Linked DNA regions of Homo sapiens: region 1 is linked to region 2. A link means that fine-mapping ties the variant in region 2 to the expression of a gene that starts in the linked region. Tissue or cell type: whole blood. Region 2 holds a variant in brackets; the other region holds the start of a gene. All regions are shown on one strand. Distances are between the middles of the regions.

Evidence for each region. PIP is the estimated chance that this variant, and not a neighbour inherited with it, causes the effect.
Region 1: CCN2 starts here. The variant in region 2 is fine-mapped to the expression of CCN2 in whole blood (INTERVAL, PIP 0.91).

The regions. Positions count from the first base shown.
Region 1 is chr6:131,946,522-131,954,628 of GRCh38, forward strand. CCN2 (cellular communication network factor 2) reads right to left here and starts at 4,851. Exons shown (of 5, transcript NM_001901.4): 1 at 4,586-4,851; 2 at 4,249-4,471; 3 at 3,771-4,022; 4 at 3,428-3,639; 5 at 1,655-3,039. The coding sequence starts at 4,651. The coding sequence ends at 2,743. The region is part of intron 2 of CCN2-AS1 (CCN2 antisense RNA 1); the gene reads left to right.
Region 2 is chr6:132,179,423-132,187,529 of GRCh38, forward strand. No RefSeq gene overlaps it. Among named protein-coding and RNA genes, the nearest start is that of LINC01013, 51 kb to the left of the region's middle. The variant G/T (reference allele first, on the strand shown) is at 4,360.

The sequences.
Region 1 (8,107 bases), 230 kb before region 2:
TGGAGTGCTAGGCCAAACCCCTACTAGATTCAACAGCTGCTGTCAGCCTGGCCTTCTATATATCTAGTGACTACCTGCTGGCTGTTTGAGAGCTCTCGTGTTCTCAGAAGCATCAGATACCTTGTTGTTTCTCTGCTTTTCTCACACATGTGCTGACACGGTGCAGATCTTACGGTGGTTGATGATTTGGCACCCCCTACCTCCGATATTTGGGGGGTGAAAGTGTGCATTGCCATCTAATTTTTGTAGAAACATTGCCTGTGGGATTTTTGTTTTGCAATCTAGTGACTCTTTTTTTTTTCTTTAATGTGGGTATTTGGAAAATGTGAAATCTATGCTTTTCCTGCTGCTTCTATATTTCCAGAATGCTCTAATTCAGTAGTCAGTCTCGTTTATCATGCATGGCCCTTCATCTTTGCAGTTAGGAATTAATTGACAGAAAGGAAGTGTGAACTAACAGTGTACTCTGTGTGTGTGCCTATGTGTATGTGTACATGCGCATTTATTTGGGGAGGTGGGGTGCTGCTCCTGGCAGCACTGCTATATACAGATGTGGGTGTATCCTTAAAGCCCAGAGTTTTGACCATAAATTTTCACATTCTGAACACGGGAAGTTTTCCCTTTGGTTTGTGGTGTGGACAGTTGTTTGTAGAGCTAGTCTTTATTTTCAGGTGTATTTTTGTCTGTCCAAATGACATTGGCACTACAACGTTGCTAATTACCTTGGGAAAAGTTAGTCTGTCTGCAATTTTTTTTTCCCCTAGAATCCTCAGCTATCCTCATGTGGAGAAGATTCTAGTTGCCTTTGGTGTATTGCTTTTGTTTACCATTCACTTTGGTTCACTCTTTAGTAAAAACCTACCTGGGTAGGTACAATATTGTTTCCACATGAGGCTTCTTGAACAATTCCATTTTCTCATGTATAAACCACTTGGTAAGGTAGGATGCATTAATCTGGAAGTCTGATAAAGCTAAAGACTTGGGCAAATGGAGGAATTACTTTCAAAACAAATTTCTATTAATGTTAATGAATGGAAGATTTGCTCATCCTCCCTTTTCTATTTATGCCATCTGTTTGTCATTGGTTATCATGGCAACCAAAAACGGAATTATACAAAACAAGACTTATGAAATAGCTCCATTTAAATGAGGATTTCATTTCATAATTTTCAGATTTAACAGTAAGGTAATGAAGTTCAGAAACAGACCTAGAGCATAAAATTTTTAAAAAATGTAAACATTTTCCACGTGCAAGGCACATAGACTAGTTTGTGATGTGAAGGGTTGGAAACTAACCTATAACGGCCAGAGAGGTACAAATGCCAAAAGGACCAAGTGTAATACAACAGGGTTAATGGAGACTGAAGTAATCTAGAGAGAATTGAATTTAAAGTGTCTATAAAGTTCTGTGAAGATAACAAAAAAAATGGCTGTATAGTCAATGTGGTGTGTATGCCTGCAAGTCTGTGATACTTGATTCAGTGTGAAGTATGTTTACATAAAAATTCTATGGAATAATCAATTTATTAATGTATAGAATAATTAAAGATATTTAGAAAATTATTGGTGAATTATCTTATGATTAATAAGAACTTCCTATTTATGCTCAAGAAAACTCAGAAATGTTTAGAAGGATAAATGAATAACCAAGCCCTTTATAGAAAAAATATACACTTTATTTTCAACTAGAAAGGTGCAAACATGTAACTTTTGGTCACACTCTCAACAAATAAACTGTCCGAAAAACAGTCATATCAAAGTAGAAACAAATGCTTCCAGGTGAAAAAACTGATCAGCTATATAGAGTCACTCAGTTTTTAATAAAGGCCATTTGTTCATTAAAAGTGAGGCTACCACATTTCCTACCTAGAAATCAGCCTGCCAAGGACACTGATGCCTCCCCTTTGCAAACAATCTGTTTTGACGGACTGTCATTCTATCTGAGCAGAATTTCCATATAAGTATCCATTTCATGCTTTGAACGATCAGACAAGCTTTACATTCTACCTATGGTGTTCAGAAATTGAGGCTAACATTGAAATATCAAAGCATTAAAAACAAAAATAAAAAGGCACAAACAACTTTAAATTAACTTAGATAACTGTACATATATATATATATACACACACACACACACACACAATATTTACAATATAAATTTTAAAAAATCTGGCTTGTTACAGGCAAATTCACTTGCCACAAGCTGTCCAGTCTAATCGACAGGATTCCGATTCCTGAACAGTGTCATTCGAATCAGAATGTCAGAGCTGAGTCTGCTGTTCTGACTTAAGGAACAACTTGACTCAGTCTCTTGATGGCTGGAGAATGCACATCCTAGCTGTCACTGGGGCTACAGGCAGGTCAGTGAGCACGCTAAAATTTTCCTTCTCAATTACACTTCAAATAGCAGGCATATTACTCGTATAAGATGCTATCTGATGATACTAACCTTTCTGCTGGTACCCTCCCACTGCTCCTAAAGCCACACCTTAATATACATTCTGGTGCTGTGTACTAATGTAGTTCCACTGTCAAGTCTTAACATTCTTCAAACCAGTGTCTGGGGTTGATAGACTATTTGTTTGACATGGCACAATGTTTTGAATTGGGTGGGAATCTTTTCCCCCAGTTAGAAAAACAGATTTAAATAACTTGTGCTACTGAAATCATTTTTACGGAAAAATGAGATGTGAATCAGTTCAAGTTCCAGTCTAATGAGTTAATGTCTCTCACTCTCTGGCTTCATGCCATGTCTCCGTACATCTTCCTGTAGTACAGCGATTCAAAGATGTCATTGTCTCCGGGACAGTTGTAATGGCAGGCACAGGTCTTGATGAACATCATGTTCTTCTTCATGACCTCGCCGTCAGGGCACTTGAACTCCACCGGCAGGGTGGTGGTTCTGTGGGGGGTGCAGCATCGGCCGTCGGTACATACTCCACAGAATTTAGCTCGGTATGTCTTCATGCTGGTGCAGCCAGAAAGCTCAAACTTGATAGGCTTGGAGATTTTGGGAGTACGGATGCACTTTTTGCCCTTCTAAGGAAGACAAGGGAAAAGAGAGAGGAAAAAAAAAAATCAGCGACTCTACAAGAGGAGTGGCTTTCTTCAACCCTCTGTGTTTTAGTCTTCTGTTGTCTGACTTCTGTTTATATTTTGAGGGGAGGAAGTTTGAGTCTCATTTGCTATGTCCAAAAATAGCCAGAGCCTCTCTTGGAATGTCTTGAATTAACTAACCCTGTGGAAGATTTCGTAGTGGAAAACTGGTGGTTGCTATTACACAAGCTCTCATTCCAGCAAAACAGCTCAATGGTTAGATAGTTTTGGAGATAACGGGCTTATACTAACAAGCGTGGCAAGAGCCCTAAGTTGGGTCCTATCCACTGTTTTTCCTGTGAAAAATAGTTAATAGGAGCAGAACATGTACCTTAATGTTCTCTTCCAGGTCAGCTTCGCAAGGCCTGACCATGCACAGGCGGCTCTGCTTCTCTAGCCTGCAGGAGGCGTTGTCATTGGTAACCCGGGTGGAGATGCCCATCCCACAGGTCTTGGAACAGGCGCTCCACTCTGTGGTCTGGACCAGGCAGTTGGCTCTAATCATAGTTGGGTCTGGGCCAAACGTGTCTTCCAGTCGGTAAGCTGCGAGAGCAGAGCACACAAACACCATGTAAAACGCCTGGATAAGGTATTTCCCCCGTTCGGTCGGCACAGTTAGGACTCCCTCCCTGGGAGAGAATCACGACCCTGACTTAGAGGAAGACTCGACTCACCCGCGAGGGCAGGCCCAACCACGGTTTGGTCCTTGGGCTCGTCACACACCCACTCCTCGCAGCATTTCCCGGGCAGCTTGACCCTCCTCGGGAAGGGGCAGTCAGGGCTGGGCAGACGAACGTCCATGCTGCACAGGGGCATGCAGCCCACCGCCCCGTCCAGGCACGTGCACTGGTACTTGCAGCTGCTCTGGAAGGACTCTCCGCTGCGGTACACCGTACCACCGAAGATGCAGGGAGCACCATCTTTGGCTGGAGAAGAGGAAGGGAAGAGAGGGGTGGGGGATGCAGAGGTCAGGCATTGGGGCACTCTCACATCCAGAGCGTCAGGGATGCGAGTTGGGATCTGGGCTGCAGGGGGCGGGCTGGCAGCAGCTGGAGAAAGAAACTCAGTCCGAGCGGTTTCTTTTTCCAGCGGGCGGGTGGGCGTGAGGGAGGAGGCGGCCGGACACCTAGCGGTGGGGGCTGCGGGTCTTACCGGTGCACACGCCGATCTTGCGGTTGGCCGGGGAGCCGAAGTGACAGAATAGGCCCTTGTGCGGGTCGCATGGGTCGCGCTCGGTGCACAGCTCGCCCAGCTGCTTGGCGCAGACGCGGCAGCAGCCGCAGCCGTCCAGCACGAGGCTCACGCCCGCCGGGCAGCGCGGCGCCGGCTCGTCCGGGCACCGGCACGGCCCGCTGCAGTTCTGGCCGACGGCCGGCTGCAGGGAGGACAGGGCGGTCAGCGGCGCTCGGTCGGCGCGCACGCCCTCCCCGGCCGGCCCCGAGTCCCTCCCTGGCAGCCGCCGGCCGCAGCGGGGGCTCCCGGCGCTTACCCGGCTGCAGAGGGCGAGGAGGACCACGAAGGCGACGCGGACGGGGCCCATACTGGCGGCGGTCATGGTTGGCACTGCGGGCGGAGCGGAGGGCGCGGTGGCGGCGAGCGGGGAGCGGCGGGGCCTGGAGCGCTGGCGGTGGTCGGAGGTGGGGACCGGGACGCGCCGGGCTGTCGTCTCGGGGCTGTCGGCCGGGGCGGCTGCCGTCGAGCTGGAGGGTGGAGTCGCACTGGCTGTCTCCTCTCAGCGGGGAAGAGTTGTTGTGTGAGTTTGGGGCGGGCGGCCCGAGGCTTTTATACGCTCCGGGCGGCCGCGGCTCGCCAATGAGCTGAATGGAGTCCTACACAAACAGGGACATTCCTCGCATTCCTCCCCACCTTCCTGCCTCATCAACTCACACCGGATTGATCCTGACCCCTTGACACTCAGCATTCCTCCGTCTGAAAAAGCTGGCACACTCCAGCTCACAGAAAAAAAAAAAAAGGAAAAAAAAAAGCGCAGTATTTCCAGCACCAAATAGAATTTTTTTTTCCCTATCCTCTTCGCACCACTCCTGATTCATATCATTTATAAACACACTGGCAATTATTTCTTATTTCTTTTTCGAATAAGTTTGCCCTGTTCTGTCCACTGACATACATCCTTTTTAGGAAGTAGGTAGCTGAAGAGGCAAACAGCAGGAATTCCTAAAAAATTCGAAAAGGTTTCTCCCCCCCAACCCTTAGCAATGATTTGCGTTTTAGAGGCTATAGGCTCTTGAAACTCTCCAAAGAGTAGAAAAGGAGTGAGTTGCTTTTAACCATTTGAAATCCTCAAGATGCCTACCTGTAAAACCCTGAATTCTATATTTGAGATTTGATCATTTGTCACTTGAGGTAACGGTTTTGGGACAAGAAAGAGAACAAAGACGCGTGTGACTCAGGATGCAGTCTCCTGGGGCAGATTTCCAAAACTCTTGCTTAGTTTTCTCTTAATATATGTAGGAGTTTTATATAGGCAAGGACAAGGGAGGAGTGGCCATCAATGTTTCCAGAAAAAGGGATCCATTGTTCTATCAGAGCAAATGATTCTGTGTTGGGTAGGTAGGGGCTCTGGGTGTCAGGGTGGGAACACTGGGATGCAAAGGGGGTTCACCTAGGAGCATTTAAACACAGCTTCACTAGGGTCTTTGAGAAATGAGTGCATTTTCTTATATTAAAACCTATAATCTTCAAATGTGGATTGGATTTGGTTTGTCTTGTTAAAATAAGAAGTCTGATTCCATTACAAGAGCAGTGTACCCTGTTGTATCTGGATATAAACTAAGATTGACAGTGAATAATATATTTTTAGTGACTCCCCACACATCTATGAATAGTGATTGTGACTTCTCATTACCCAAGGAACATGCAGCCTGAGGGAGTGAGGTCAGGACAAGGAAAGAATAGGCTTTATTCTCCCTGGGTGTGTGCAGATGTTGAATATGGCCAATAAACCTAAGCATATCTCCATTTCTTAATATAGTGCTACTTAGCTTCACTAAAGACCCAACTAATTCACTGTGCTTTCATTTGGAATCTATGTTGTTTAGTGGCTTTTTTGTTAATACCTCCAGTTCCCATTTTATATAAAGAGAGTGATTCTAGGGCCATACCATTTTTGTATTCTGTAATGCCGCATCATTTGACATTGGTGTTACCAATGAGTAGATTCCTTTAAGTTGTTGATGCTTCAGAGCATGGGTTCAAGATAAGCATATCTGTTTGTGGTGCAAAGATCGGCTTTAGAAACAATGCATTATAGATTTATCATTTGAAAACAGCCTGTTTAAACTGATCAAATTTTTAAAGTTTCAGTACAGTCTGTTGAAAAATAGCCAAGAAGAAATATAACCACTCCAACTTCAGCATAGAGCATATCATCTGTGCACGATTACCTCGTTAAGCCAGCCACATGTTATAGAGTGTAGTTGCATGTCAATAGTGTGAATGGCCAGCAAAGGGGTGGGGGTGCCCTCTGAAGCTCAGGAAGAATTTTCGTCATTGTTATTTAATGTCCTTTCCAAGCATTCCTCAAAAAGAAGAGGCCTAAGAGTTCCTATTTAAAGAAGGAACATTCCAAGTTAACTTAATAGCCACATGTGTATTAAAGGCAACTTGGCCCTCAACTTTTTCTTCCCTTGTGGATGATTTTAAAAGTCCAAAATATGTGGGAAGCCACAGTGAAACCTTTCAAGACCTAAACCCCCAATTACATCTACCTCTAATGGTTGGAAAGGTGTGGTGGCTGGGGAAGGGTAGGGATGTGCAGTGCGAGTCTCACCTAAGGTGGGATGTGGGCTTGGTGGTGAGCTCTCCTAGCTTGCAGAGTGAGGTAGGTGGGAGAAGGGTTGGGGAATTTCTGAATCCTCAGGAGAGTCTGAAAGCTACCACCATCTTCATGCCTGCAGCAGGGAGACTCATTCATGGAGGGGATAAATTGTTGTACTGGGTTATAGTTAGATGGCCTAGGTTGTATTCTTGGAACTGCCTTTCGCAGATCTCAGGGAAGTCACACGTAGGAGCCATATTCCCATTTCTGTTTAAAAAATGAAAGTAATCATAATTTTTTTAATTTAATAGGGTTCAGTGAGGGCTGAGTAGATGAAAATTCCAGGGAATTGGTGCTTTATTTTTTTCAGATTTTCTTGATTTTTTTTCAATCTCTGTGTATAATAAGTATATTACCATTCTGCTCTGTTGTTAAAAATGTCAAAAGAAAGAATTTGGTTTTACTATAAAATTCTCATAGTCCCTCGAAGTCTCAAAAAAATCTATAGTCAGTTCCAAATAGATGATTTTAATGTTGCTTAAGAGGAAATAAGCATATTGAAATATATAGAACATATGAAATCTCAGGAAAGAAAAAGTTTCTGTGCATTATCAGGTTAGATTGAGGCTTTATGATCAAAACTCTTTTTGAAGGAGTTAAAAGACTATTATTAAGAGAGTGACACAGAGACAGACAGACACATACATGCACACACACCCAGAGAGAGAGAGAATGAGAGAAGACACCCAAGACATTCACAGACTCAGAAGTATGTTTTTATTGTGATATGGACCATCAAATGCCAGGAAACTCAAAGGGAAAGGCTGATACTCCATCCATAATTCATGCCATGGGATCTGAATTCTTGCACTATTATCAATGACTCAGCAAATGTTTGTGTGTGCCTGGGCGGTAAAGTGGGAAATAGTGGCTTCTTATAACTTCATCCAACTTTGACTTACCCCAGCCCCTTTGATTGACAGCAGGTCAGAGTTGGGAGAAAAAGATCTTTGAATTTGTGTGCAAAATGGTTAAGATGCACTAATTTTGACTTGTAAGCAAGTATTTATCTAGCAAATGCTTTTTAGAGAGCATTTTTTCCTCGTGGTAAAATGAGGAATTAACTAAGCTGGCCACTGAGTCCTGTTTACCAAGCTATATAAGGTATGTGTGTGTGTCTACTAGGGCATCATTTGTACTGGTCGTTTGGTTAAGTCTTGTAAGATGTTCAGC
Region 2 (8,107 bases):
AGAAATAAAAGAGGATTTCCATAATCTGATAAAAATCTTCAACAGAAAATCTACATCAAACATCAACCTTTGAGGCAAAATAGTAAAAGTGCTCCCTTTAAAATTAGAAACAAGGGGAGGAAAAAAATGGCAGACAGGAGGCAGGACTAACTTGCAGCTCCCACTTGGATTGACAGAGCAGCGTGTGGAGACTCACATCATGAACTTTTGCTCCAAGAACTACCACAAGAACATACCAGGAAAGCTGAGAGAATTCACAGATCCTTTGAAGGAAGCGGAGTGCTGCTGCAGGCCCCTGGAGACAGCTGAAAAACTATGAGTGCCCAAAGTGTGAAAGTGGGATCATGGGTGTCGGAATACACACCCTCAGTGGGGAGCCTGAAGGTCCATATCATGGGAGAAGGATTTGACCTTACCTGGAGCTGAGACAAATTTAGAGAGCTGAGCAAAATACAGGGTTAGAAACAACAGCAAGGAAAGCCCTGTGAGCTCTCCCTGTCAGGGGTCCTTGGGGAGGGCTGCCAGAGGACCTAGGAAAAGACCACGGGGAGAATAAAACTTCCAGCTTAACTTTGTAAACATTTTGACAGAAGGCAAAGTTTCCTGGACAGAACCTGGGGGAGGGGTGAATTGGAAGTACAGACACAGCACAGAGGCCATGGCAGGCAGAGAGGCAAGACCTGAAACCCTGCTTGCTTTCTCAGCTGGGAGGTGGGTAGCCTGGGGCAAGTTCTCAGCCTTGCTCACCTGCTGCCTGGAAATAAACTTGGTGCTGTTGACGGGACATGGTGGGAGGGAGACCAATCATTTGGGCTGCGTGGGAGCTGGGTGAGGTCTGTGACTGCCTGCTTTTCCCCACTTCCCTGGCAACCTGCATGAGGCAGCAGAGGCAGCCATAATCCCTGTGGAAACAACTCCATCAGCTGGGGAACCACACTTTGATCCCCCACAACAGCCAGAGGAAGCACTGCCCAAGGAAAGCCTGAGCTCAGACACACCTAACCTTGCACTCACCTGATGGTTTTTCTCTGCCTACCCTGGTAGCCAAAGACAAAGGACATAATCTCTTGGGAGCTCTATAGCCTCACCCACTGCCTGATCCTCTCTATACTACTGCAGCTGATGCTCTCCTGAAAGTACCATCTCCTGGCTGGAGGCCAGTGAACACAAAACTAGTGAAATAAACAAAACTGCAGCCAAGGACCCTCAGAGAGTCCACTTCACTCCCCTGCCATCTCCACTGGAGCAGGTGCTTGTACCTACGGCTGAGAGACCCAAAGATGGTTCACATCACAGGACTCTGAGCAGACACTCACCACTTCTAGCCTGGAGCCCAGCAGCTTCTCTGGGTGGCTGAGTCCAGAAGAGAAATAGCAATCACTGCAGTTTGGCTCTCAGAAAGCCACATCCCTAGGGGAAGGGGGAGAGCACCACATCAAGGGAGCACCCCATGGGACAAAAGAATCTGAACAGCAGCCCTTGAGCCCCAGATTTGTCTACACAAAAGAGAAGGAGCCAGAAAAACAATTCTGGCAATATGACAAAATAAGGTTCCTTAACATCCCCCAAAGATCACATTAGCTCACAGCAATGGATCAAAACCAAGAAGAAATCTCTGAATTACCAGAAAAAGAATTCAGAAGGTCAATTATTAAGTTAATCAAGCAGGCACCAGAGAAAGGTGAAGTCCAACTTAATGAAATAAAAAAAATGATACAAGATATGAAGGAAAAATTTTTCAGTGAAATAGATAGCATAAATAAAAAACAGGCCAGGCACAGTGGCTCACACCTGTAATCCCAGCACTTTGGGAAAATTAGGCAGTTGGATCACCTGAGATCAGGAGTTCGAGACCAGCCTGGCCAACATGGTCAAACCTCGTATCTACTAAAAATACAAAATTAGTTGGGCGTGGTGGCACATGGTAATCCCAGCTTCTTGGGAGGCTGAGGCAGGAGAATTGTTTGAATCCTTGAGGCAGAGGTTGCAGTTAGTCAAGATCATGCCATTGCACTCCAGCCTGGGCAACAAGAGCAAAACTCAATCTCAAAAAAAAAAAAAAAAAAAAAAAAAGAAGCAGAAGAAAGCAATCACAATATCTGGAAATGAAGGACTCAGAGAAATGCAAAATACACTGGAAAATCTCAGTGATAGAATTGAATAAGTAGAAGAAAGAACTTCAGAGTTTGAAGACAAGGCTTTCAAATTAGCTCAATCTAACAAAGACAAATAAAAAAGGATTAAAAAAATGAACAAAGCCTCCAAGGAGTTTGGGATTATGTTAAATGACCAAACCTAAGAATAAGTGGTGTTTCTGAGGAAGAAGAGAAATATAAAAGTTTGGAAACCATATTTGAGGAATAATTGAAGAAAAACTTCCCCAGCCTTGCTAGAGATCTTGTCATCCTGAAGAAAACTTCCCCAGCCTTGCTAGCAATCTAGTCATCCAAATACAAGAAGCTCAAAGAACACTGATAAATCTATTGCAAAAAGATCATTACCTAGGCACATACTCATCAGGTTATCTAAAGTCAAGATGAAGGAAAGAATCTTAGGAGCTGTGAGGGAAAAGCATCAGGTAACCTATAAAGGAAAATCTATCAGTTTAACAGCAGATTTCTCAGCAGAAACCCTACAAACTAGAAGGGATTGGGGCCACATCTTTAGCCTTCTTAAACAAAATAATGATCAGTCAAGAATTTTGTGTCTAGCAAAACTAAGCTTCATAAGTGAAGGAAAGATACCATATTTTTCAAACAAACAAATGCTGAGAGAGTTTGCCACTACCAAGCCAGCACTACAAGAACTGCTAAAAGGAGCTCTAAAACTTGAAACAAATCCTTGAAGTACACAAAAATAGAACCTCCTTAAAGCATGAATTTCACAGGACCTATAAAACAAAAACATAATGGGGGAAAAAAGATATCCAGGCAACAAATAGCATGATGAATAGAATAGTACCACCCATCTCGATACTAACATTGAATACAAATGGCCTAAATGCTCCACTTAAAATAAACAGAATGGCAGAAGGAATAAGAGTTCACCAACCAAGTATCTGCTGTCTTCAGGAGACTCACCTAACACATAAGGACTCACATAAACTTAAGCTAAAGGGGTGGAAAAAGATGCAGATGGACTCCAAAAGTGAGCAGAAGTAGCTACTCTTATATCAGACAAAACAAACTTTAAAGCAACAGTGGTTAAAAAAGATAAAGAGGGACATTATATAATGATAAAAGGACTAGTCCAATATGTGATATTTATCACATTCCTAAATATATATGCACCTAACATTGGAGCTCCCAAATTTATAAGACAATTACTAGTACACCTAAGAAATTAGATAGACAGCAACACAATAATACTGGGGCACTTTAATACTCCACTAACAGCACTAGACAGGTCATCAAGATGGAAAATCAACAAACAATAGATTTAAACTATACCTTAGAACAAATGGACTTAACAGATATTTACAGAACATTCTACCCAACAATTGCAGAATATACATTCTATTCATCAGCATACTTAACATTCTCTGAGATAGACCATATGATAGGCCACAAAATGTTCATTGGGTCACCCATGAAATCAAGATGGAAATTAAAAAATTCTTTGAACTGAACAATAATAGTGACACAACTTATCAAAACCTCTGGGTTAGAGCAAAGGTGGTGCTAAGAGGAAAGTTGATAGCCTTAATTGCCTATATGAAAAAATCTGAGAATACAAAGAGACAACCTAAGCTTATACCTCAAGGAACTGGAGAAACAAGAACAAATCAAGCCCCAACCCAGCAGATGAAAAGAAATAACCAAGATCAGAGCAGAACTAAATGAAATTGAAACAAAACAAAAACAAAGATAAATGAAACAAAAAGCTGGTTCTTTAAAAGGATCAACAAAATTGATAGACAGTTAGAGAGATTAACCAAGAAAAGAAGAGCGAAGATCCAAATAAGCTCAATTAGAAACAAAACAGGAGACATTACAATCAATACCACAGAAATGCAAAAGATCATTCAAGGCTGCTGTGAACACCTTTATGCACATAAACTAGAAAACCTAGAGGAGATGGATAAATTCCTGGAAATATGCAACTATCTTAGATTCAACCAGGAAGAAATAGAAACTCTGAACAGAAAAATAAGCAGCGAGATTGAGATGGTATTAAAAAAACTGTCAACAAAGAAAAGTTCAGGACCAGATGGATTCACAGATGAATTCTACCAGACATTCTAAGAAGAATTGGTACCAATCCTATTGACACTATTCCACAAGACAGAGAAAGAGGGTATCCGCCCCCACCCAAATCATGCTATTAAGCCAGTATCATCCTAATATCAAAACTAGGAAA[G/T]GTCATTACAAAAAAGAAAACTACAGATCAGTATCCCTGATGAACATACATGCAAAAGCCCTTAACAAAATACTAGCTAACCGAATCCAACAACATATCAAAAAGATAATCAGATAATCCACCATGATCAAGAGGGTTTCATACCAGGGATTCAGGGATGGTTTAACATATGACATATGCAAGTCAATAAATGTGATACACCACATAAACAGAATTAAAAACAAAAATCACATGATTGTCTCAATAGACTCAGAAAAAGCATTTGACAAAATCCGGCATCCAACTGTGATTAAAACTTTCAGCAAAATTGGCATAGAAGGGACATACCTTAACCTAAGAAAAGCCATCTATGACAAACCCACAGCCAACATTATACTGAATGGGAAAAAGTTGAAAACATTCCCCCTGAGAACTGGAACAAGACAAGGATGCCCACTTTCACCACTTCTATTCAACATAGTACTACTGGAAGTTCTAGCCAGAGCAATCAGACAAAAGAGAAAGAAATACATCCAAATCAGTAAAGAGGAAGTCAAACGGTTACTGTTTGCTGATGATACGATCATATAGCTAGAAAACCCTGAAGACTCGTCCAAAAAGCTCCTAGAACTGATCAATGAATTCAGCAAAGTTTCAGGACACAAAATTAATATACATAAATCAGTAGCTCTGCTATACACCAACAGTGACCAAGCTGAGAATAAAATCCAGATCTCAACTTTTTTACAATAGCTGCAAACAAAACAAAACAAAACAAAACAAAACAAAACAAAAAAACTTAGGAATATACCCAACCAAGGAGTGAAAGACTGCTACAAGTAAAACTAAAAAACACCGCTGAAAGAAATCATAGATGACACAAACGAATGGAAACACATCCCATGCTAATGGAAGGGTAGAATCAATATTGTGAAAATGATCATACTGCCAAAAGCAATCTACAAATTCAATGCAATTTCCATCCAAATATCACCATCATTCTTCACAGAACTAGAAAAAAAAGACAATCCTAAAATTCATATGGAACCAAAAAAGAGCCTGCATAGCAAAAGCAAGACTAAGCAAAAAGAACAAATCTGGAGGCATTACATTATCCAACTTCAAACTATACTATAAGGCCACAGTCACCAAAACAGCATGGTACCGGCATAAAAATAGGCACATAGAACAATGGAACAGAATAGAGAACCCAGAAATAAAGCCATATACTTACAGTCAACTGATCTTGATAAAGCAAACAAAAACATAAAGTGGGGAAAAAAACACCCTGTTCAACAAATGGTGCTGGGATAATTGGCTAGCCACATGTGGGAGAATGAAACCAGATTTTTATCTAGTTTATCTAGTTGTATAACTGTATACAAAAATCAACTCAAGATGGATCAAAGTCTTAAATCTAAGATCTGAAACCACAAAAATTCTAGAAGATAAAATCAGAAAAGCCCTTCTAGACGTTGGCTTAGGCAAAGACTTCATGACCAAGAAACCAAAAGCAAATGTAACATAAACAAAGATAAATAGATGGGACTTAATTAAACTAAAAAGCTTCTGCACAGCAATGGAAAAAATCAGTAGAGTAAACAGACAACCTGCAGAATGGGAGAAAATCTTCACAATCTATACACCTGACAAAGGATTAATACCCAGAACCTACAAGGAACTCAAACAAATCAGCAAGAAGAAAACAAACAATCCCATCAAAAAGTGGGCTAAGGACATGAAGGAGATAATTCTCAAAAGAAGATATACAAGTGGCAAAAAAAAGTATGAAAAAATCATCAACATCCCTAATGATCATGGAAATGCAAATCAAATCCACAATGCAATACCACCTTACTCCTGCAAGACTGGCCATAATAAAAAAAATTATAAAATAATAGATGTTGCCATGGATGTGGTGAAAAGGGAGCATTTTTACACTGCTGGTAGAAATGTAAACTAGTACAACTACTATGAAAAACAGTGTGGAGGTTCTTTAAAGAACTAAAAGTAGAACTCATTTGATCCAGCAATGCCATGACTGGATATTTACCTAGAGGAAAAGAAGTCATTATACCGAAAAGATACTTGCACACGCATGTTTACAGCAGCACAATTTGCAATTGCAAAAATATGAAACCAGCCCAAATGCCCCATCAATCAATGAGCAGATAAACAAATTGTGATATATATGTATACACACACATGTATATATGTATATAGATGTATATATGTGTATATATATATATATATATATATTCAGGGAGTGGGTGGGAGTGAGTGAGGGATAAATACACATTGGATACAGTGTACACTGCCTCAGTGATGGGTGCACCAAAATCTCAGTAATCACCACTAAAGAACTTATTCATGTAACCAAACACCACCTATTCCCCAAAAACCTATTGAAATACACAAAAAATAGAACTGGGAAAAAAATCAGAAACAAGAACAGCACTCCCATTCAGCATGGAATTCTAAGACAGTCAAATAAGACAAAAAGAAATAAAAATTCTGAGGTTTGGGAAAACAACTAAAATCTTTTTAATTGACAGATAGAAAAACTCAAAGGAATCCATAGAATTAGTAAGACAATATAGCCAAGTGCTGAAAAAAATTAATATACAGAAACTGTATACTTGGAATAAAGAGTTGGAAATAGCATTTTAAAATAAACACCATTTATTATATTAACACAAAATATAAGATGTGTAAAAACATATGTACCAAAAATATAAAGAGTTCATGGAGGAAACTTTTCAATATTATTGAGACATTAAAAGAGACATAAATAAGTTTAAATTTTGCCACTTTCAAGGAAGACTTGCTATTACAAGGAAGTCAATATCACCAAATAGCATACATGCAATTTTAATTTGAATTTCATAGAATTTTTTAAAGAAACTTGAGAATCCGATTCTGATATTGATGAAAGAAAAGAAAAGCCCAAGATTAGTTAAGAGATCCCTGAGATAAAAATAGTGTGCGATTTCCCCAGGAGACAGCAAGACTTTTTAAAAAGCCATGGCAATGCCAGTGTGGTATTGGTTTGCAAACAAAAAGGATACTGATAATAGAAATGAGAAAATACAAATAGACCCATACACATATGGAAATGCTGTGATTGAGAAGGCAGATCAATGGGAAAGTTGGGACCACTCAATATATGATGCTGGTTGAGTGGATTATTCATTTCAAAGAATATGAAACTAGAACCTTATCATACACAATTTCCACAAATCAATTTCAGATTGATTAAATTCTTAAATTTGAAAAGGTAGATTACCCAATTTTAGAAGAAAACAAGGAGAGTTTCTTTATAGTCATGGGGCTAGGAAAAGATTTCTTCAACAAGACACAAAAAGTACCCACTAAAAAATACAAATTTAATAACTTTGACTCATTAAAATGAAGAATTACCATTAATTATAAGAAATCACAACAAGTAAAATACAAGCCACAAATTAGAAAAATATATCAGCCATATATTAACAAAAGATAAAAAAACCAAATATCTCCTAATATCTTCTAATAAAACTCTTAGTGGCTATAAGAATAGACCAACGACCTAACAGAAAAGCATCAAAAGGCATTTTTTTTTCCAGAGGAGAAAGACTAGATGACCAAAAGTATATGGAAGATGTTTTAATCATTAACAATGCGGTAATGCAATTTAACAGTATAATGGGACAGTTTTATATCCACTAGATGGGCAAAACTTAAGTATGACAATGACTGCCATTAACAAGGGTGTGAGCTATAGAAATTC